Linked DNA regions of Homo sapiens: region 2 is linked to region 1. The links come from fine-mapping of genetic effects on gene expression. A gene starts in region 1. The other region holds a variant in brackets. All regions are shown on one strand. Distances are between the middles of the regions.

Region 1 (11,307 bases):
GCAAGAGCTGTAAGAATTACTACAACCGGACCGGGCGCAGTGGCTCACGCCTGTAATCCCAGCACAGACGTGAACCCGGGAGGCGGAGCTTGCAGTGAGCTGAGATCGCACCACTGAACTGCAGCCTGGGCGACAGAGCAAGACTCTGTCTCAGAAAAAAAAAAAAAAAAAAAAAGAATTACTAGAACCACAGGCCGGGCATGGTGGCTCACGCCTGTAATCCCAGCACTTTGGGAGGCTGAGGCGGGTGGATCACCTGAGGTCAGGAGTTCAAGACCAGCCTGGCCCACATGGTGAAACCCCATCTCCACAAAAATAAAAAAAAATTAGCCGGACATGATGGCAGGTGCCTGTAATCCCAGCTACTCGGGAGGCTGAGGCAGGATAATCACCTGAACCCTCCGGGAGGCAGAGGTTGCAGTGAGCTGAGATCGCGCCATTGCACTCAAAAAAAAAAAAAAAAAGAGAAGAACCACAAAAACACCAAGAGTAAGCCATTTCTTGTATAAACAACAGTGATAAGTGTACAGCACATTTTTAGGATTTCAACATGTTTTTGATGCTTTCCCTAACTTGCTCTAGTTCCTATAAGCATAAAGTCAGAGTTCATTCGTATTACTGACATTCAGAGCCCATTGTGATCAAACTTCATGCTGGGAACAAGACAGGAATAGGAGCAGCAGGGCCAGAGGCACCAGCCCACGGAGGTGCCAGGCCAGGCTGTGCAGAGGCTAGGCGGTGCCGGGAGCCAGCAGGTAGCACCCTGAGATGCCCAGTGACCTTGAACCTCCAAGCAGTGGGGTTGCAATGAGTCAACAGCCAGGGAGCAGCAAGTGCAGCTTTAAGATGGGGGGAGCTCACTCCAGCCGGCAACGAGAGCCACCGTGAGAGGACGAACAAGATGGGGAGGGCAGGCACTGACCCTGCTCCTAGTGGACCGATACGTCACTTCACCTCATTTAACAGGAGGCAACTCTCCTGGTTCTGTGGGGAAGGAAATTCCTACTACGTGCCACATTTAGGGCTTGTAACAGTCCGGTCTGTGAACTGGGAGCTGGGTTAAGGGGAAAATGTTGGCTATGTTCTCATACACAGCAAGTTACATTTTAAGTTAAAATTCAAAGCACAGCACACGTGAGCATGCCAAGGCCCTTCTCACTCCAGCTGAGACTAGCTTTGGCCCCCACCTTTCTCCACATGAAGAGGGCCCAGCGCATTCTCCGCTATCCTCCCCACACCATGGCACCTTCAGCCCCTCCACCCCTGCCCCGGCCAGCTCCTGTGCCTCAAGGGCTCCGCCCGGCAAGCAGGCAGGCTGGCAGGTCTCCCAGAGTTCCCTGATCTGTCCCCCAGTGACCCTACCTTCTCTCTAACACTGCCTGTCCCACTGGCTCCCTTACTAGGCTCTCCCCAAAACCTGTTCTGACGGCTTCTGTCCCCAGCTCTCCAAGGAACCCCCAGTCAAGGCCGTTCGGGGTGATGGGGATCATTGCTCCACGTCCCTCACGAGCACAGGTGTCATCTGTGCCCAGGCCCTGCTGGGAGCCCTTCTGTTCTTTTTTCCAACACCAACGAATTCTCCAACTGGGAGTCCAACAATTTAATTCCATACTGACACTACCCAGAGTTAGTGCAGACCTCACAGGGTACGGGCTCAGTCCCACAAGACTGCCCCCACTCCATGTGCCCAGGCTTACCCAACTTCAGCTGACCACACATTTGAGGGTTCCCATGACCGCCTTGGTTTTGATCATTCACAAGAATGACTCAGATGTCAGCAATGGGCTCTACTTACTGTCACAGTTTATTATAAAGGGTACCTGGTACCTAGGAACAACCAGACAGCATGGCCAGGGAGGTCCCGAGCACAGGATCCTTTGTCCTGTGGAGCTAGGTGGACGCCAGTGGGAAGCCTCACCAGCCTCCTCACCCAGAAGTTCTCATCAAGGCTTCATGACTGATTACAGTATTGGCCCACTGGCCATGGGGACTGAACTAAATCTCCAAACCCTCTCGCCTCCCTGGAAGGGGCAGGAAGTTCCCACCCTCTAATCACAGCATGGCCAGCACCTCAATCTATCTAAGGGCCTGCCTGGAGTCACCTCATCAGCATAAACTCAGGTGCAGTGATAACGAATAACAGAAGACACTCCCAAACTCACGCCTGTAATCCTAGCACTTTGGGAGGCCAAGGCAGGTGGATCGCTGTTGAGCTCAGGAGTTAAGCCTGAGCAACAGAGACCCTGTCTACAAAAATGTTAAAACATCAGCTGGCAGGAGGATCGCTTGGAGGCTGTGGTGAGCCATGATCAAGCTACTGCACTCCAGCCTGGGTGACAGAGCAAGACCCTGTCTCAAAATACAAACAAATGAAAAAAGACACTCCCATCATTCAGGAAACTTCCAGGGTTCTCAGCCCTCAGTGCTGGTGCCAGGATCAGGTCAAAGAACAAACAAACCTTTCTTCACCTGGCTTCACCCTTGCCACTCCTGGGAGAGCCTCCCTACCTGACCTCCACCTCCTCCCCAGGCAATCTCTTCCCTGACTTGAATACACACGCCCCACAGGTCTGATGGGCACGGCACAGTCCACACCTCCAAGAACTCTCAACTAGCGCCCCTCCTCATTCTGCTCCTCCCCAAGTCCTCCCCAGTTTCAACAAATGGCACTGTTGTCCCCAGGCGGCTCAGGCCAGAGGCCACCTCTCCCACACAGCCCTCACTGTTGTCCCCAGGCGGCTCAGGCCAGAGGCCCCCTCTCCCACACAGCCCTTGGAGTCAGCCCTGCTTCTGCTCGTAAAGCGACTTCCTCCCAAAAAGGACAAATGGGGAGGTGGGACAAGAGTAACTGGGCAGTGAAAAACCTGACAAACACCACTTCAGCCTACTGATCAAGGTCAACATCAACAGTGACAAATCATTTGGACAGCATGGAGCCTCGGCGGGATATGATAAGGATGCTTCACCTCTGTGGTCTTCCTCCTGAAAAACCATCTTTCCCAGCTTAATTATGAGGAAACATCAAGAAATACCAGTAGAGCAGCACCCTACACTCCACCTGGGCAGTACTCCTCAAAGCTGTCAAGGTCACTGCAGACAAGGAAAGCCTGAGAGGCAATCAAGAAGGGTGGTACAGATGGGTCCTGGGACAGAAAAAGGACCTCAGAATGGAGAACGGGAGAGTAAAGAAAATCTGAATATGTTATGGACTTTAGTGAACAGTAACAGATCAAGGTCAGTTCATTAACTGTGACAACGAACCCTACTCATCTAAGATGTTAATAGCAGGGGCCTGCAGCACTCCACTCGGTGTATCACTCATCAGTTCAGGGACCTCCTCCACAGTCCAGCCCTGGGTCTCGCTGGCTCTGAAATCCCTACTGTTTCTACAGCAGACCTGCCAGTGTCCCTGTCACAAAGCACAGTAGTAACTACAGAAGACATTTGTGTTCCTGAAATGACAGAATCGCACATAAAAAGCTAATTATTATTATTATTTATCAAAAATCTGATAATAAGCACGAAGTGTTAAAAGTACTTTTATCACCATCAAGAGGTCCAGAGAGAGCTCTAACATCTAACACAGCAACTGGAAAGACCACATGCTGAGCTCCACCTTCAGACTGTGCAGTTCCACCACTCAACATCCTCTCACCACTCCAAAAGTTTCAGTGGCTAACCAGCCATTATTGTAAAAATTACAAGAATTGGCCAGGCGAGGTGGCTCACGCCTGTAATCCCAGCACTTTGGGAGGCTGAGGTGGGTGGATCACGAGGTCAGGAGTTCAAGACCGGCCTGACCAACATGGTGAAACCCCATCTCTACTAAAAATACAAAAATTAGCCAGGCATGAGGGTGTGCGCCTGTAATCCCAGCTACTCAGGAGGCTGAGGCAGGAGAATCGCTTGAACCTGGAAGGCAGAGGTTGCAGTGAGCCGAGATCATGCCACTGCACTCCAGCCTGGATGACAGAGCGAGACTCCATTTCAAAAAAAAAAAAAAAAAATTACAAGAATTGGGGGCCGGGCGCGGTGGCTCACGCCTGTAATCCCAGCACTTTGGGAGGCCGAGGTGGGTGGATCACCTGAGGTCAGGAGTTCGAGACCCGCCTGGCCAAGACGGAGAAAACAGTCTCTACTAAAAATACAAAAATTAGCCAGTCGTGATGGCGGGTGCCTATAATTCCAGCAACTCGGCAGGCTGAGGTAAGAGAATCACTTGAACCCAGGAGGTGGAGGTTGCAGTGAGCCAAGATCACACCACTGCACTCTAGCCTGAGCAACAGATTGAGACTCTGTCTTTAAAAACAAACAAACAAACAAACAAAAAAAAACAAGAATTGGGAGGATACATTCAGGGCAACTTCAATCTATCTCTTTGGGGGTGGGGAACAGAGACAAGAATATTGAAGCTGGGTGCCTGGGCATGGTGGCTCCTGTAATCCCAGCACTTTGGGAGGCCAAAGCAGGAGGATCAGTTGAGCCTTGGAGTTCAAGACCAGGCTGGGCAACATACCAAGACCCTGTCTCTACAAAAAAACTACAAAAAAAAAAATTAGCTGGGTGTTGTGTGGCACAACTAACAACTTGGGAGGCTGAGGCAGAAGGATAGCTTGAGCCCAGGAGTTTGAGGTGCAGTGAGTATGATCGCACCACTGCACTAATTATTTTACTTGAGTCCCTCTTAGCAAGTTTTATGTTTATTCCAATTTTACAAATAAGGACATAGACTCAAATAAGTTGGTTAATTAGAGAGAGAGAGGAGGTGGGCACACCCTGGGACAGCATTCACTCCAGACAGCACCTGAGGCTAGGGGGGCTAAAGCCACGCACCCTGAGGACCCTCAGCGGCTCCGGAGTCCCCGTGTTCCCCGGGTGCCGGTCGCGGCCTAATCACACCACAGGGGTTTGTAGGTGCTGGCATCACCTCATCAGTGACGGACCAGGAAGGCTCCTGCAGCCCAGCAGGTCCTGCTCGCCGGTGTCTGCCCTGCCCACCCAGTCTCGTCTCCGGGACCCCAAACGTGACCAAAGGGCACGGCCGTCCTCGTGCGTGGACACGTTCCACCAAGCTTACTCGCGCAGGGCGCGCCAGGGCTGCCCAGCCCTTCAGAATTTTCCCACTGTCTCTGAGGCAGTGACCCGGGGGACCCGGCCGCCTAAGGTCACAACACACGGCAGAGGCCCAGCGGCTCCGCCCGGCGCTGGCGGCCCAGCCCGCGACGAGACCCGGGGCCCCACGGTCCCGCAGGGGCTCCGGAGGCCGGGACCACCGGGCTCCCCGCATCGCCGTGACAACCAGCCCGAACCCGCGGGTCGTCCGCGCTCCCGACCCACCAGCCGGGAGCCGGCCCCGCCCTGGGGTGCCCGCCGCTTACCCCGCGGGACGGTGTACCGAGGCGGCGGCGGGAGGCGGGCGGGCGCCCGGCCGCGGCAGCTCCTCAGTAAGATGGACGCCATGTGCTCGGGCGCGGCGGCCGCTCCGGCCTCCTGCGCTGCCTCCTTCTCCGCGGCGGCCGCGGCTCTTCGCCGTCCCGGCGGCGCTTCAGACCCGGCCCGCGCGGACGGCTGACAGAGGCGGCTGGCCTCGGACGGGAGGCGCTCTCCTCAAGGACCCGGCACCAGCGGCGGCCTTGTCCCGGCACAGACGTCCGGAGGCGCGGGGCGGGGCGGCCAGGCCGCGGCTCCCATTGGGCCCCTCAGCGCCCGCCGCTGGCCAGGTGAGGGGCGGACCGCGCCACCGCGGACTACCGGTTCCGGCGTGCACCGGGACGGCCTGCACGCTGGGGTGCGGACTACCGATCCCGGCGTGCACCGGAGCGGCGGACTACCCTGAGGCGCGGACTACCGGTCCCGGCGTGCACCGGGGCGGCTGGCTCCTGGGGCTCGCTGCATCCTGGTTCCCGTCGTACCGTGGACGCCGGGGCTCGCAGCGTGGCGGCCGCAGGAGCTGAGGGAGTCGGCCGCGCTTGCGCGGGGAGTGTCTTTTCGTCTCCGGGCGGCGGCAGCAGCGCGTGTGTCCGGAACTTTTCTGGGACTAAGTCCTGCACCCACGAGTAGAAAACGGCTCCTGGGAGCTTGGGGCTCCAAGGGCAAGTCAGGGGACGCTGGGGATGGAGGGGCGCCCTCGACGCCCTCGGCCGCGGTCCCTCGCCGGCCCCCCTGCTCTGTGGCTCTGCCCTCGGCGGTCTGCACTCTGGCGCGCGCAGCTCTGAGTGCCTCTTCCCTGCGTACCGGGCGGCGCTCCCCAGATACGGCGCTGCTCGGCGTCGGGAGTCCCCGTCACCACTGGGGGGACGGGAGCGCAGGGTCCCGCCCCGAAGGACAGGGCCATGCCGGCCCCTGGAGGCGAGGGCACTAGGCCGGGTGGCGGCGCAGCCAGCATAGCGGCCCCCCATCCCGGCACACCGCGTCCTCCCGTCTGAGCGGGAGGGGTAGATATGGGTCCTGCGTTGGCGCGGGGGGACCCCTCGTTTCGCTCTGGCCTAAGCAGCCCCTGGGGTCCCGCGCGCCGCAAGAGCGCCAGACTTCCTAACCTGGGCCATACCCTGTCCGCTCCACTTCCCAGTCCAAGAAGGAACAGCCGAAGCCCAGGACGCCAAGGACCTGGCTCGAAGTCTCCAGAATTCCCGCCAGAGCTGGGCTGGGCTCGCGGACCGCTCATGCGCCGTCTCCCAGGAGCCTCCCCCCAGCCCAGTTTAATAGCCGGCCCTGACCAGTCCAGGGGAGAGAGACCGTGCAGCCTCCCAGCAGACCGTGACCTCTGAGCTCCACCTTCCCCTTCCTTCCCTAAGATGAGGATCCCTGAGTTGGGGCAGAGAAAGCAGGCAGGGAGAAAAATGGGGACCTGCGGCGCTGGGGGCCCAGCTGGTGGAGATCTCCAGCTAGGAGATCCCCAGCACAGCACTTGCCCTGCCCTCTGTCTTGTTCAGGGATGTAACCTGCCTCCTCCTGCTTCTCCGCGGCACCTCAGGGCACCGCCTGGGGAGGGTCTTGTAGTGCACACTCAGCATCTCTGTTCCCTGGAGCGCATGGGGTGTGAAACGCCTGATGCCAGCCAGCTCCCCAGTCTTGAGAGGCTGGTTGAATGGCACATCTCCCTAGGAGGCTCCCTCCCCAGGGTCCCCTCTGCCCCTGCTGTCCATGCAGTCGGTCCTCACCCGTCAGGAAAACGTAGCCTGCTTGCCTGGGTGGTTTTCCCCATCAGGAACTGCCAGGTACTGGGCCTGGATGGGCTTGAATTCCCCATCTCAGTGGGAGAAGGGGGCATTGTTTAGTGCAGGGCACTTTGAAGCCGTCTGTAAGTCCCTGTGTCCACACCGGTCAGTGGGCACTGCAGACATCAAATGCAGACAGAGTTTAAGCACAACTAGGCCTGAACCTAGGCCTGTGCTGCCAACAGACATGAAGGGGCCCCTTTTCCACCCATCCCCCAGGAGGCAAGAGGGGGATACAGAAGGATAGTCCTTGCCTCCCCACCCAGGGTTGGACCTGAGCTGGAGTGGACAGTTGGTCAGGGTCAGAAAGAACTGGACTTTTTATGGCCCAGCTGTAGGACTTTTTATGGCTCAGCTGTAGGACTTTTTATGGCCCAGCTGTAGGACTGTATGTCCTAGTCCTGGTCTGGACATTGGTTCTGAGCACCAGATGACCCTGCCCGATGCTGGCTAGGGAGGGTGACCCCGGAGAGGGTGCAAGAAACAGTGCTCCTCTCGTTAATGCTGTGGGGTCCCAGGTGTCCCGGCAAGGCCAGGCAGGAGGTGGTGACTGCCCCATCTGTGCTAGTGCCTGTTTACAGGACTTTGAATGACACTGAAAGAGGAGGGAAGCCCTCCCCGCAGTCTCCACCCTGCCCAAAGTGCTGGGTGTGAGGAAATGTGGAACATACCCTCGCCTGCAGTTGGGATGACCCACCATCCCTGGACCAGAACAAGGAAAGCCTGGCAGCGGAGAGCCAACAGCAGGACTGACACAGGCAGGTGCTGTCTGCGATGCTCGTGCAGCCCAGGCAGGGTGGGATCTTAGATAAATTTTCAACAATTAAAATAGCTGTGATCAGGCGCAGTAACTCACACCTGTAATCCCAGCACTTTGGGAGGCCGAGGCGGGCTGATCACGGGGTCAGGAGATCGAGACCAGCTTGGCCAACATGGTGAAACCCTGTCTACTAAAAATACAAAAATTAGCTGGGCATTATGGTGCATGCCTGTAATCCCAGCTACTCGGGAGGCTGAGGCAGGAGAACTGCTTGAACCAGGGAGTCAGAGGTTACAGTGAGCCAAGATTGTGCCACTGCACTTCAGCCTGGTGACAGAGCGAGACTGTCGCAAAAAAAAAAAAAAAAAATAGGTCAAAAGAAATAAGTAGAAATCTGGCATCCAGCCAGCTGACTGTGCACCCTTAAGGCTGGAATGAGGCCTTCCAGTCCCACATCTCCATATGCAGCAGAACAAGGGCACAGAACCATGGCGCAGTGGTTTAATAGCAAGCACTGTTTTTAGCCTTTTTCTCTTCTTTTTTTTTTTTTGGTTGGGGAAACTTCCTTTTCCTTCTCCCTATGTTCCTCACAAATCACATATAACCTTCCATAGTCACTCGGTGTATATACAAGTGACAGTAGAGAAACAGGGCAGGAAGCCCAGGCAGCACACGGGCCCCAGTTAGGGAGGTTAGGGATCCCGTTAGGGAGGGCGGTTAGGGATCTAGTTAGGGAGGGGGCTAGGGACTAGTCAGGCAGCTTAGGGACCTAGTTGGGGTTGGGACCTAGTTGGGGGGTTTAGGGATCTAGTTAGGGAAGGGGGGCTAGGGATCTAGTTAGGGAGGAAGTTAGGGATCTAGTTAGGGAGCTTAGGGAACCAGTTAGCGAACTAGAGGAAGACTTAGAAGGGTTGTGTGCTGCACTTGACCCATGCTCTGGTGAAAAGCAGCCAGAGTTGCATTTGCCCAGATTGGGGATTTGCTGGGAAGTATGATGAAGGAAGAGAGACAAGGATGTTTGCAAGAGACTATGAGGCTTGTCCCAGGAATTGAAACTGGGGAGAAGGAAAGGGAAGAACAGGAGGGGGCAGTGGGAGACAGCAGAAGATAGCAGGATCACTGGCCTGTGGGCTGAGAGGGGTTTGGAGCCAGGTACCAGAACAAGTAAGCTGACGAAAGTGGGATGCTCCACACAGGGTGCTTGCACTTACTGGTGATGGCAGGGGCTAGGGTGACAGCCCAGGAGAAAAACCTTGGATACCAGGTCACCTTGCAGCTGGGAGAAGCTTTAGCCAGGTACATGCAGCAGGAGAAGTGGAGGTCAGCCTCCAGCCTCCAGCCTCCTCTCACCCCACTGAGGAACCACCTGCAGATAAAAGTGGTGGTTTTGGGCCAAGCACAGTGGCTCGCACCTGTAATCCCAGCATTTTGGAAGGCTGAGGTGGGCAGATCACGAGGTCAGGAGATCGAGACCATCCCGGCCAACATGGTGAAACCCCGTCTCTACTAAAAATACAAAAATTAGCTGGGCGTGGTGGCACATGCCGGTAATCCCAGCTGCTTGACAGGCTGAGGCAGGAGAATCACTTGAACCCTGGAGATGGACGTTGCAGTGAGCCGAGATCACGCCACTACACTCCAGTGTACACTACACTACATTGCATTTTTTGAGACATAGCTAGACTACGTCTCAAAAAAAAAAAAAAAAAAGTGGTGGCTTTGGGCTGGGACATGGGAGGGCTATGCATTTGGATTTTTTTTTTAATTGAAATAGGGCCTCACTCTGTTGCCCAGTCTGGGGTGCAGTGGTATGATCACGGCTCACTACAGCCTTGACCTCTGGGCTCAAGCGATCTTCCTGCCTCAGCCTCCTTGAGTAGCTGGGACCACAAGCATGTGCCACCATGCCTGGCTAATTATTTAATTTTTTGTAGAGACAGGGTCTCACTATGTTGCCCAGGGTGTTCTTGAATTCCTGGCCTCAAGTGAGCCTCCTGCCTCAGCTTCCCAAAGTGCTGGGATTATAGGCAAGAGCCACCATGCTTGACCTAAATTTGTTATTTGTTGTTGTTGTTTTATTTAATTTTTAAAAAATTTTTTTATTTGAATCAATGGAACCCACTATATATATGTGTATGTGTGTATATATATGTGTGTGTATATATATATGTATATATATGTATATGTATATATATGTGTGTATATATATATATATATATATATATATATATTTTTTTTTTAGACAGGGTCTCGCTCTGTTGCCCAGGCTGAAGTGCAGTGGTGCAAAATCATAGCTCACTGCAGCCTCCACCTCCCGGGCTCAAGGGATCCTCCCACCTTAGCCTCTAGAGTACCTAGGACTATAAGCACACGCCACCATGCCTGGCTAATTTATGTATTTTTTTGTAGAGATGGGGTCTCGCCACATTGTCCAGGCTGGTCTTGAACTCTTGGGCTCAAGCAATCCACCTACCTCGGCCTCCCAAAATGCTGGGATTACAGGCTCCCTGCTCCCTTTTGGATTTCCACTCTGGGAACAGCCAGCTGCCAGGTCATGAGGACACTCAGATAGCCTGTAGAGACCCACATGGGGAAGAACTGAGGGTAGTCCATTATGCAGCAATAGATAACTAAGACAGGATGTGCCTAGAGAATTTGCTCTAGGACACAGTCCCAGTTCCCAGGGCATGGGTCCTGGTGTCTCAGCTGCATACCAAGCCTGTGGGCTGAGAGGGGTTTGGAGCCAGGTACCAAAGCATTCATGAGGGACATTGATGAGGTTAGAATGAGGTCTCTCCATGCAGGCTGGGCCAGAATTCCTATGGCAGTTGCTTCCTGTTAAGTCCAGGTGGCCTCATCCTGAGCAGGTGCAGCCCACTCCTCAGCCAAGGACAGTGGGACATCTCAGGCTTCCCTGCAAACACTTTCCTCTCCAGGGCCTTCCCCACAGATTCCAGCTGTGCTACTGTCCCCAGTTCAGTGGGGTGCTGCACACTGGTGCTCTGGCTGGGCTCCACCTTCTGCACATATATTTTCTTTTATTTTCTTTTCTTTTTTAATTTTATTGTACTTTAAGTTCCAGGATGCATGTGCAGAATGTGCAAGTTTGTTACGTAGGTAAACGTGCGCCACGGTGGTTTGCTGCACCTAGATTTGCTTTTTGTTTTTTATTTTTTGAGACAGAGTCTCTGTCACCCAGGCTGGAGTGTAGTGGCGTGATCATAGCTCACTGCAGCCTTGAACTCCCAGGCTCAAGCAATCCTCCTGCCTCGGCCTCTGGAGTAGCTAGGACTACAGGCATACGCCACCATGCTCAGCTAATTTTTAAAT
Region 2 (11,307 bases), 420 kb after region 1:
CTCCTGCCTGTGTGGGGTCAGTCCAGCCTTCTCCATGAACAGGAGTGCTGGCTCCTTAGGGGCAGAGTGGGCTGCTGTTTACAGGAAAGTGAGGGGGAGGTTGTACACGCCCCGCCTGACCTCCCCTAAAGCGCAGCCCGTGTGTCCTCAAGCCATGCACCGGTCTCAGGCCCTGACATGACACCTGAAATGCAGACGAACAGGCGGTGGATGAGGTCGTGGCTGCCGTGGAACCTGGACCGGATCTTCTCTCTTGTGGCCTGTGGGGCAGCATGCGTGGCTGCTGGGGCCGCCTCTGGCCCCATCTTGTCTGAGGAGCAGGACCCAGCTGTGGAGCTGCTGCATGGAGAAGGAGATACCGGTGTGTGGGGTGGGGCATGATAAGGGGCCGTGGAGCCCGAAGGTCACTGGTCAAGACAAAAGTCTGTGTCCTCGCAGACGCTCACCCCACAGGCGTGTATCTGTTGCCCAGATACACAACTTTCCTGTAACTTCACCTAAAATGTCCTCAGTGTAACATGCTCACCACATATACCAGGTGGTACAACAGGGCTCTGAGCCAGTCCCGGGCCTTTGATTTCTGCTGGGCCTCCTGGAATTGACAGCTGGTGGCGACTCACCCACTGAGGCTGTACTCCTGGCTTAATATCGACCGACTGCCCCTATGGAAGCGTCAACTCACCTTTCACACCATTTCTAATGGCCTGAGTGTCAGGCAGCCCCCAAAAATATCTCTCCCCACCCCAGCCCCTGAAGCCTGTGAACGTGACCTCATTTGGAAAAGGGGTCTCAGCAGGAGCAATTAAGTGAAGCATCTGGAGATGAAGAGATTGCCCTGAATGATCCGGACAGGTCATAAGTCCAAAGACAAACGTCCTTATAAGAGACAGAAGAGGACACAGACACAGAGGGCAGGAGAGCCCATGTGACCACGGAGGCTGAGACCGGAGACGCGGCCCCAACCCAAGGAACACCTGGAGTCCCCAGAAGCTGGGAGAGGCGAGAGGAGCCTGCCCTGGAGCCTGCAGACGGAGTGAGGTTCTGCCAGAGTTTGCACTTCGGGCCTCCGACTGCGAGACAGTTTCCAGGGCTTAGGCCAGTTTGCGGGGACAGCAGCCTCAAGAAACGAATACAGGATCCCCCCGCCCCCACCTACACTTCCCTGCCTGGAGTCAGAACAGGGCCCGGGACCTCCAGGGGCCTCTGCACAAGACCCCACAGGCCTCGCTGGCCTCCCTGGGCATCGGTTCTGACTTCCAGACCTCAGGCTCTGTCCGTGGATGCCCTTGGAGGCTGAGGGACCCTCCGTGCATGGGGTCTCCATCTTCCCAGCAGCTGCGTCCTCAGCTTTCATCAGATTTGCTACTCAGGGGTTCCACGGTGACCCTATAAATCGTTCACAGCTGGGCCTGTACTAACTCCGGAGGTTCACCTCGCCCAACTCTAGGGGTGCACCCACTGGCCCTCTCATTTTAAACTAATTTATCTCCTATCTTTTTGTCCCATTTTCTGGGAAATTTCCCCCAACTCGTTCTTCTAATTTTACTCTTGACGTTTAAATTTCTGCTATCAAGTTTTAAATTTACTGCTGTTACTGTCGTTTCATGGATGCAAAATCTTTTCTCTACCTAGAAATATTCGTGATAATTTTTTTCAGTTGCCACTGGCATCCTGCACGGCCTCTTTTGGAGGGCTTGGCTCATTTATTTGGCCGTGTCTCATGCCGAGCCTTGCCCCAAATGTTCGGGGATCCTCGTCGACCTGTGCAAAAATAAGAACAGTGTGGGTGCAACCACAGGAGCCTTCACCTTGCTGGTGGGAGCGTCAGCTGGTGCAACCACTTCGGAAAAAATGTTCGCACCGTTTCAGTAAAGCCAGGGCTGTCTACACTCTGGAGCCCGGTGGCCTCTGTTGCCGGCATACACTGGAAACGCGCATCTGCGTCTGTCTGCAGAGATGCAGGGTCTTAGACGCGGTGCTGGGGATTCCAGTGAAACGCTGGGCAGGATCCCAAGTCCGCCAGCAATGGAATGGAAGACCCACCGTGATCTAATCGCCCACCAGCAGAGGCCACGGAGGCGGAGGCGAGCCAGCCACAGCCCCGCCAACGCGCACGAATCCCACGTGGCGTGAGTCTTTTCACAGACCGTGGGAAACATGCACAACTGCCTGGTATCTAATTTAGGGACACAGCCTCGTGACGTAAACCCTGCAGAAGCACAGAGGCGTGGCGCACGTGAGAATTCAGGGCAGCGGGCTGCGGCAGAGCGGGGGAGGAGGCTGGAAGCGTCCCTGGAGCTGCACGGGGCCCCCTCCCTCATGGCAATGTGCTAACATAGCTGAATATTTGCCGGAACGTGGGAGCACGGTAGGAGGCTTAGGGGGCCTGGGCCCATGGGACGGGATCCTCTGCTGGGACCCCAACAATGCTCCGTGGCTCTCCCCTCCCAGGTGGTCAGGGTTCCACAGATGAAGCCCCTACCTTCAGCTTGGGGGTGTGGGCCTTGCTGCCCTCTGCCCTGGGAGCTGAATAAGGGAGGGGCCTTCACTGTCCAGGATGTCAGCTTCCACTCGGTACCCCCAGCCTCATCAGAGCCTTACCCAAAGGAACTGAAATTTGGGACTCGGACAGATACTTGCACGCCCACGTTCATAGCGGCCAAGAGACGGCAGCAACTCAGGTGTCTGTTGGCAGAGGCGTGGATAAACCAAATGTGGTCCACCCATACAACAGAATATTATTCAGCCTTAAAAAGGAAGGAAATTCGGATCTAGGCTACAGCCACGGATGAATGTTGGCAAGATCATGCTGAGTGAAACAACCCAGCTACCAAAGGATGCGTCCTGCTTGAGTCTCCGACACGAGGTCCTGAGAGCCGTCACGTTCATACAGATGGAAGGTAGAACGGTGGGCGCCAGGGTGGGCAGAGGGCGGGGAGTCGGGGGGAGTGAGTGATGGGGAAACAGTTTCAGTTTGGGAAGATGAGGACGTTGCGGAGATGATGTTGGTGACAGTTGCACGGCACTGAGTGTGTTCAATGCCACGAAATTGTACGCTTAGGAAGGGCTAAATAGTAAACTTTATGCTACATATATTTTACAAAAATTAAAAATATAAAAAAAAAAGAATTGGGGCAGGGAGAGAGCAGAGGCAAGGGAACGGAGGCGGCAAGTACATGGCAGAAGGCCGGATTGGCGTGGCGCCCGACACAGAAGGCTCAGGGGTATTATTGCCCAAAACCACTGAACTGTGTGATTTAGAAAGGTGAATTTTGTGGTATGTATGTTACATATCAATAAAGGCTTTTTTTTAAAGATCACGCCGGGCGTGGTGGCTCATGCCTGTAATCCTAGCACTTTGGGAGGCCGAGGCAGGCGGACTGCCTGAGTTCAGGAGTTCGAGACCAGCCTGGGCAACACGGTGAAACCCCGTCTCTAATAAAATACAAAAAATTAGCCGGGCGTGGCGGCGTGTGCCTGTAGTCCCAGCTACTCGGGAGGCTGAGGCAGGAGAATTGCTTGAACCCGGGAGGCGGAGGTTGCACTGAGCTGAGATCGTGCCACTGCACTCCAGCCTGGGTGACAGAGTGAGACACCATCTCAAAAAAATATAAATAAATAAAATAAAAATTAAAAAAAAGATCATTTGTGTTTAGATATGGTAGCAATAAACTGAAAGTGAAATGAAGAAAACAATCCTTAGCCCTTTACAATAGCATAAAAAAGATTAAAATACTTAGAATAAATTTAACAAAAGAAGTACAAGAATCATACACTGAAAACAACAAAACATTGTTGAAAAATATTAGAAGACCTACATAAATGGGAAGACATCTCGTGTTCACAGGTCGGAAGACAATATTGTTGAGACGGCATGACTCCCCAAATCGATCTACAGATTCAATGCAATCCATACGAAAGTGCCAACTGCCTTTTTTTCTTGCAAAAATGGACAATATGATCCTAAAATTAATGTGGGAGTGACTCGAGGGACCCAGAATAGCCAAAAGAAAAAAAACAAGTTGGAGGACTCACACTTGTGATTTGCAATGTGGCATGAAAGAGCAGGAATCAAGACTGTGCAGCAGCAGCATAGGACCGACATACAGACCAATGAGACCGAGAGTCCGCAAAGAAACCCATATGCTTATGGGCAGTGGATTCTCAGCAAGGGTGCCAAGACCAACCAGGAAAGAATAGTCTTTTCAACAAATGCTGCCGGAAAACCGGAGACACACATGCAAAAGGATGAAGCTGAACTCTGACCTTATACCACATACAAAAATTCACTCGAAATGAATCATATATCTAGATGTCAGAGCTACAACTCAAAGATTCTCT[C/CT]TTTTTTTTTTTTTTTTTTTGAGATGGTGTCTCACATGGCTTACCGCAGCTTTGACTTCCCTGGGCTCAAGTGAGCCTCCCATCTCAGCCTCCTGAGTAGCTGGGACCACAGGCGTGCACCACACTGCCCGGCTAATTTTTGCATTTTTAGCGGAGATGGGGTTTCACCACGTTGCCCAGGCTGGTCTTGAACTCCTGGACTCAAGTGATCCACCCACCTCAGCCTCCCAAAGTGCTGGGATTACAGGCGTGAGCCACGGCGCCCAGGCTTAAAATTCTTAAAAGAAAACATTGGAGTAAATCTTTGTGGCGTTAGGCTAGGCCACAGTTTCCTAGACATGACACCTAAAGCATGGGCAACAAAAGAGAAAACAGATAACTGGACTTCATCAAACTGAAGACTTTCTGCTTCATAGGACACCACCAAGAAAGTGAAGAGAAAACCCACAGAATAATTTTTGCAAATCATGTGTCTGATAAGGACATAGTATCTGCAATATAGAAAGAATTTTTACAATCCAACAACAAAAAGACCAAAAAAAAAAACACTACTGAACAAATGGAAAACGGATTTGAATAGACATTTTTCCAAAGAAGATATACAAATGGCTAATAAACACATGAACAGATGCCCAACATCACTGTCAGTCAGGAAATGCCAAAAAAATTACAATTAAATACCATTTTATCTATTAGGACGATTAGAATGTTCCCCCCCCCCTCAAAAAAAAAAAACCCAGAAAATATGAAGTTGTGGTGAGGAAGGTGAGGATGTGAAGGAACTGGAATCCTCCTCTCTTCCTTATGGAAAAATAAAATGGCACAGACACTTTGGAAAACAGTTGAATGGATAGACAAAATGTCTATCTATATAATGGAATAAGTTTTCAGCCACAGAAAGGAACGCAGCACTTATACATGCTACTGTGTGGATGAACACTGAACACATCATATTGTCATCCCAGCCCTGTGGGAGGCCGAGGCGAGAGGATCACTTGACATCAGGAGCTCGAGACCAGCCTGGCCAACTTGGTGAAACCCCGTCTCTACTGAAAATACAAAAATTAGCTGGGTGTGGTGGCGCATGCCTGTAATCCCAGCTACCCGGGAAGCTGAGCAGGAGAATTGCTTGAACCCAGGAGGCAGAGGTTGCAGTGAGCCAAGATCGTGCCATTGCACTCTAGCCTGAAGACAGAGCGAGACTCCGTCTAAAAAAACAAAAACAAAAACACACCCATCGTGCTGAGTGAAAGAAGCCAGTCACAAAAGATCACAAACTGGCCGGGTGCAGTGGCTCACACCTGTAATCCCAGCACTTTGGGAGGCCAAGGTGGGCGGATCACGAGGTCAGGAGATCGAGACCATCCTGGCTAACACGATGAAACCCTGTCTCTACTAAAAATACAAAAAAAATTAGCCAGGCATGGTGGCGGGCGCCTGTAGTCCCAGCTACTCAGGAGGCTGAGGCAGAAGAATGGCGTGAACCCGGGAGGCGGAGCTTGCAGTGAGCCGAGATCATGCCACTGCACTCCAGCCTGACAACAGAGTGAGACTCCTTCAAAAAAAAAAAAAAAAATCACATACTGTATGATTGATTCCATTCACATGAAATGTCTAGAACAGGCGAAACCCATAGGGGCAGAAAGCAGAACCGTGGTCGCAACAGCTGAAGGGGGAGGGGAACATGGTGACTGCTGATGGGGAGGGTTTTTCTTTATGGGGTGATGAAAATGTTTTGAATTAGACAGTGATATTGGCTGTACAGCCTCATGGATGTACCACAAATTACTGAGCTGTACATCTCACAAACAACAGAAGAGAATGTTTTTCTTGTAATCGCCCAGCAAACTCATATGCAAGAAATAGCTTATAAGCTAAATGTCCATCAACAGTGGGTTGACTCAATACATTAGGTCATATCCCTATGGTGAAACAATCTCCAGAAGGATGGTCCACTGGAAATGTTAAAATATGAAATGAAAAATGTAGCATTTAAAAAATTAGAGGCGAGGTGTAGTGGCTCATGCCTGTGATCCCAACAATTATTGGGAGGCTGAGGCGGGAGGATCACTTGAGGCCAGGAGTTCAAGACCAGTCTGGGCAACATGACAAGACCTCTGTCTCTACAAAAAATCCAAAATTAGCCAGGCATGATGGTGTGCACCTGTAGTACCAGCTACTCTGGAAGCTGAGGTGGGAGGATCGCTTGAGCCCAGGAGTTCAAGGGTACAGTGAGCTGTGATCACACCACTGCACTCCACTCCAGCCTGGGCAACGAGCAAGACCCTGTCTCTTAAAATAAATAAAATAATAAAAATAAAAATTAGAGATGTCATATGTACATAAATGACACACTGGGGAAGATACTCAAGGTAAGGCATTAATCTTACACTTACTTGAGTAGTAAGATTACAGGTAAATTATCATTTTCTAAAGTCTCATCGCGGATCAAGTATTGCTTTTGTGATCAGAAGAGATGCCATTTCAAGAAGAAAGGAAAGTGCCTGCTGGCAGCAGATGGCACCCTCGGGCCCTGCCTGTGGCGAGGAACTTGTTTCCCTGTGAAAGGAGAAGCCCATGGGAAGTATTCAGCCCCGCAGCTCCAGCCCCTTGGACCAACACCCTGAAGCTGGGAAGGCTATCTGGACAAGCATCCTGCTACTGAAGCACCCCTGGAGATGAGAAATCAGGGGAAGGGCCCTGACGTTCAACAGAGAGTTGAGTGTGGCATAAGAACAATGGCTTCTACCAGCAGGTTGAGACCGAGGCCAGGCCAAGGCTGGCCGATTGCCCACGGGTAGGTCAGATCGCTGATGGCCATCTCAACCCCAGACACCCTTCACTTGCCACAGGAAAGGCCCTCTCCTGCCTCCCTGCCCTGGTTGGCTGGAAGCTCTGGTGGCGTGGGAGGGGGAATGGGTGGACAGAGAGAGCCAAGGGGCCCCATACAGAGATGTCACAGGTAGAAAAACCAATGAGGTACTGCCCAAGGGAACCGGCTGGGCTTGGAAGGGCCAAAGGGAACAAGAGAGCAGAGTGGGGAGGTAGAACCCAGGATTTCACCGAGAGCATGAGCCTGGGTCCTTCTGGGTCAGCCATTCCTGGGGCCATGTGGATGGGTGTCTTCCTTTGCTTCCTGCTGCTATAACAGAGTACCACAGTCTAGGTAATTTATAATGAACAGACATGTTTCTGGCTCACAGTCTGGAGGCTGGGAAGCCCAAGGTGGAGGGGCCCCATCTGACTAGGGCCTTCTTGCTATGTCACCACATGGAGGAAGGCATCGCATGGGCAAGAGAGAGGGGAAGGGGGCCATGCTCACCCTTTATAAGGACCCCACTGCAGCAATAACAAACCCACTCTTGCAATAACATCAATCCGCTCAGGAGGGCAAAGCCTTCATGACCTCATCACCTCTTTAAGGTCCCCCCTCTCAACGCTGTTGCAGTGGGGATTAAGTTACCAACACATGAACTTTGGGGCACACATTCAAACCACAGCAGGGGGCACTGTTTGGATGCCAGTGGCCCAGGAACACTGCCTTTGGAAGGGTGTTTATCCCCTGTGGCCAGTTGCTGAACAGACAGGGTAGGGCCATGAGGAGGACCTCAGGGGTAGATCAGACACTATGTGTCCCCCAAAAGCCAAGTCTAGTGGGGGAGCCACACACATTAACAATACAGAGCCGAGAAGTGAGCTGGTGCCCAGCGGGTCCATCCCTGTGGTGAGGAAGGGAACAGTACGGGTGAGATACAGCCACAGCTCAAGTCACAGAAAGACAGGGAGCCATGAGAAGCAGAGGCTAGAAGAGTGAAGGGCACCTGCCCTGCCAACAGCTTCCTGTGTCTCACCACAGAGTCTGAACCCTTGTCACTGATGTTCTCAAGTCAGTGGATCAACGTCACTTCAGCATGTTCACCCGGATGTCTAAAAGTCCAGCCACCTTCTGCAGCTGCCAGACACTCCCGCACCGGCTGCCTGAATGTTGCTTCCTGCCACTCTCTTACAGAAGGCAGCAAAAACTCCCTGCAACAGCCCCACTTCGGTTTGAACTACTATGAAATGTCATTCTCTGGTAAAGAAAGGCAGTGCAATTCTAAACAGTCACATCAATACCAAAGGCTGCCCAGCCTGTGTCTTCAGCTGTGTCACAGTTAGGCCACAGGACAGTGGCCAGGTTTCCAAAGTGCTCCTCTTGAACAGCACACAGGGGGGATAAATGGCTGATGTCATCATTGGGGTGGGAAAAGTGGTGAGGGGAGCCTCTGAGATGTTGGGAACATGGAACACGTCTGAATTCAGCAATTGGATAGAGCAGAAGAGGGAAGTTTACTGAACTTATAATTTTAATTCCAATTACTATGGAAAAGAAAGACCATAGCAAAGCCCAAATGAATCTGATGCAGCAAATTTAGCAAGTGAGTATGCAAACAGAAAGACAGGACTTTGCCACCTTGAACCTCTAGGAGTCTGTGAAAGAAGAGAATGCCAACTTTGGAAAGACTAACAGCATCACAGTATGTTTCTCATTATGACATCAGATACATTAATTTTTGAACTCTTGAAACCATTTGCAAAGGCTAATGAAGAGAAAAACAGCCTGTAGTCCCAGCTACGGGGAGGCTGAGGCAGGAGGATCCCCTGAGCCCAGGAATTCAAGGCTAGCCTGCGTAACATAGCAAGACTCTATCTCTAAAGAAAAATAAATAAAAAACAAAAACAAAGAACATCAAGAGTGACTGGTAGGCTCCAGAGGCAAGGTTTAATTGTGCTTGGATGTGGGAAAATTAGCAGCTCGGGCATTTGTACAACCACATACCAATTCTAATGAGCCACCTTGGGCCCTGACGCAAATGGTGGGCTGGCTGCTTCTTGTAAAAGTCATCCATCCATCCACCCACCCACCCACTCATCCATTTACCCATCCATATATTTACCTATCCATCCATCCACCCATCCATTCATCTACCCATCCACCAATCCATGCATCCATCCATCCATCCACCCAACTAATCATCCATCCATCTATCCACCCATGTACCCACCTGTCCACCCACCAATCCGTCTACCCATCATCCAATCTTCCACTCATCCACCCACCCATCTACCCACCCACCCATCCATTTATCCATCCATCCATCCATCCATCCATCCAATCATCCATCCACCCATCCACTCATGCACCCACCCATCCACCCACCCATCCATCCACCCATCCACTCATCCATCCACCCATCCACCCACCCATCCATCCACCCATCCACTCATTCATTTGCCATCCATCCATCCACCCACCCATCCATCTAATCATCAGTCCATCCATCCATCCATCCATCCAACCATCCAACCGTCCATCCACCCATCCATCCATCCATCCATCCATCCATCCACCTGCCCTACAAACATGCACTAAGCACCAACTATGATCCAGGAATTGCACAGTTCAGCCCTAAGGAGCTCACGATTTGATGGCAGAGATCAATAGGTGAACAGTTAATTATCACACACGGAAAGTGTAACAGAGGAACCATCAAGGGTGTTGTTGTGGGAGGTCAGAGGGGAGACTCCTCACTCAGGCTGGAGAGAGGTCTGGAGTGCCAGGGAGGGTTCCTGGAAGGCGCAGCATGAGGACAGCTTGAATGAAAGCCAAGAGGTGGGAAGCAGCCGACAGACTGTAGGGAACCCCCTGGTGATGCTGGGAGAGACCAGGCAGAGGTTGAGGCTAAGCAGAGGCCCACTGGGAGGGCTGGACAGTTCGGACCTTGGCCTGTTGGTCAGTGCCCCCAGAGGATGCTCCACAGAACGCAATTCCCTGTAGGCTACACTTGAGGGAAAAAGAGTTTGAGGAACAGAGCACAGGTGCTCTCTTTCTTGGAGCCCCCGCATCCACATTCATTGACATCAATCGACAGCTCAGGCTCGCTGTGGAGCATGTGGCCACACAAGACCGGATTCACGTGTGTACGCAGTGGAGGGAGTCAGCCAGCCTGCAAATGAGTGTTCAGAAATGAGACCATTTCCCACCGTGATAAAGGCCGTGTCGCCCAGGCTGGAGCACAGTGGCGTGACCACGGCTCACTGTAACCTCAAGCTCCGGGCCCCACATGATCCTCCAACCTCAGCCTCCCAAAGTACTGAGATTACAGGTATAGGCCACCGTGGCTCGCCTGGGGCTTTGAAGACCATGATGGGGAGGAGGAGAGCGCGACGGGGCACAGTGGTGGACAACCCAGCTTTCAGAGGAAGCATTTTGGTGGAGATTTCACCAATGAGATGGAGAGGACCTCAGCAGCAGGAGCCCAAGATGGGCTGAGCACAGCCTCCCAGGAGTCAGAGGTGAAGGCCTTGCTGCCCGGTCACACTGGCCACCAGGTCAGGACAATCCCACAGTCCTGGACGCCTCTGGTTCCCCAGAGGAGTTGGAGCCTGCTGGGACATCTTGTCTCCTCTTATGGTGCCTCACAAAGACCTCCGGGGGGCTGAGTCTGCAATGCACAAGGCCTGGCTTTGACTTCCTCTGTGAGTCCTGGGATCAGGGAGGGCTGAGACACCCTTCCAGGAATCGGCTCTGGAACTGTCTGCCAAAGTCGTACCAGCTCAGCTCAGGCCACAGCGGAAACCAACAGCAGGTAGACCCCTCTTCTTGGCAGGTGCCCTGAGTCTAGTACGGCAAGGATTTAGCAGGGAGGCGCGAGTGTGCTGTTTGGGGTTGAATTGGGGCCCCCCAGCAAGCTCATATGTTGAAGTCCTAACCCCCAATACCTTAAAATGTGACCTTATTTGGAAACAGGGTCATTGCAGGTGTAACTAAAGTTAAGATAAGGTCATCCAGGAGTAGGGTGGGCCCTAAGCCAACTTGACTGGTGTCCTTACCCATGGGGAAAATTTGGGTGCAGGCCCACACCTGGGCAGAACCCCACGTGGACTGAAGGCAGGGACTGGAGTGATGCTTCTGTAAGCCAAGTA

Direction of the effects. Alleles are on the strand shown, and positions count from the first base shown. SD is a standard deviation of normalised expression in the study named.
With allele CT in place of C in region 2, the expression in prefrontal cortex of the gene that starts at base 5,666 in region 1 is lower (large effect, 1.0 SD a copy in BrainSeq).

Evidence for each region. PIP is the estimated chance that this variant, and not a neighbour inherited with it, causes the effect.
Region 2: its variant is fine-mapped to the expression of LETM1 in prefrontal cortex (BrainSeq, PIP 0.95).

What each region holds. Positions count from the first base shown.
Region 1 is chr4:1,850,491-1,861,797 of GRCh38, forward strand. LETM1 (leucine zipper and EF-hand containing transmembrane protein 1) reads right to left here and starts at 5,666. Exons shown (of 14, transcript NM_012318.3): 1 at 5,379-5,666. The coding sequence starts at 5,460. RefSeq lists silencers at 4,132-4,308, 5,103-5,292, 5,303-5,862, 6,263-6,482 and enhancers at 4,874-5,375, 6,013-6,082, 6,752-7,547.
Region 2 is chr4:2,273,878-2,285,184 of GRCh38, forward strand. ZFYVE28 (zinc finger FYVE-type containing 28) reads right to left here. Exons shown (of 13, transcript NM_020972.3): 9 at 185-339. Among named protein-coding and RNA genes, the nearest start is that of MXD4, 17 kb to the left of the region's middle. RefSeq lists enhancers at 6,679-7,180, 7,181-7,680, 8,449-8,508. The variant C/CT (reference allele first, on the strand shown) is at 4,342.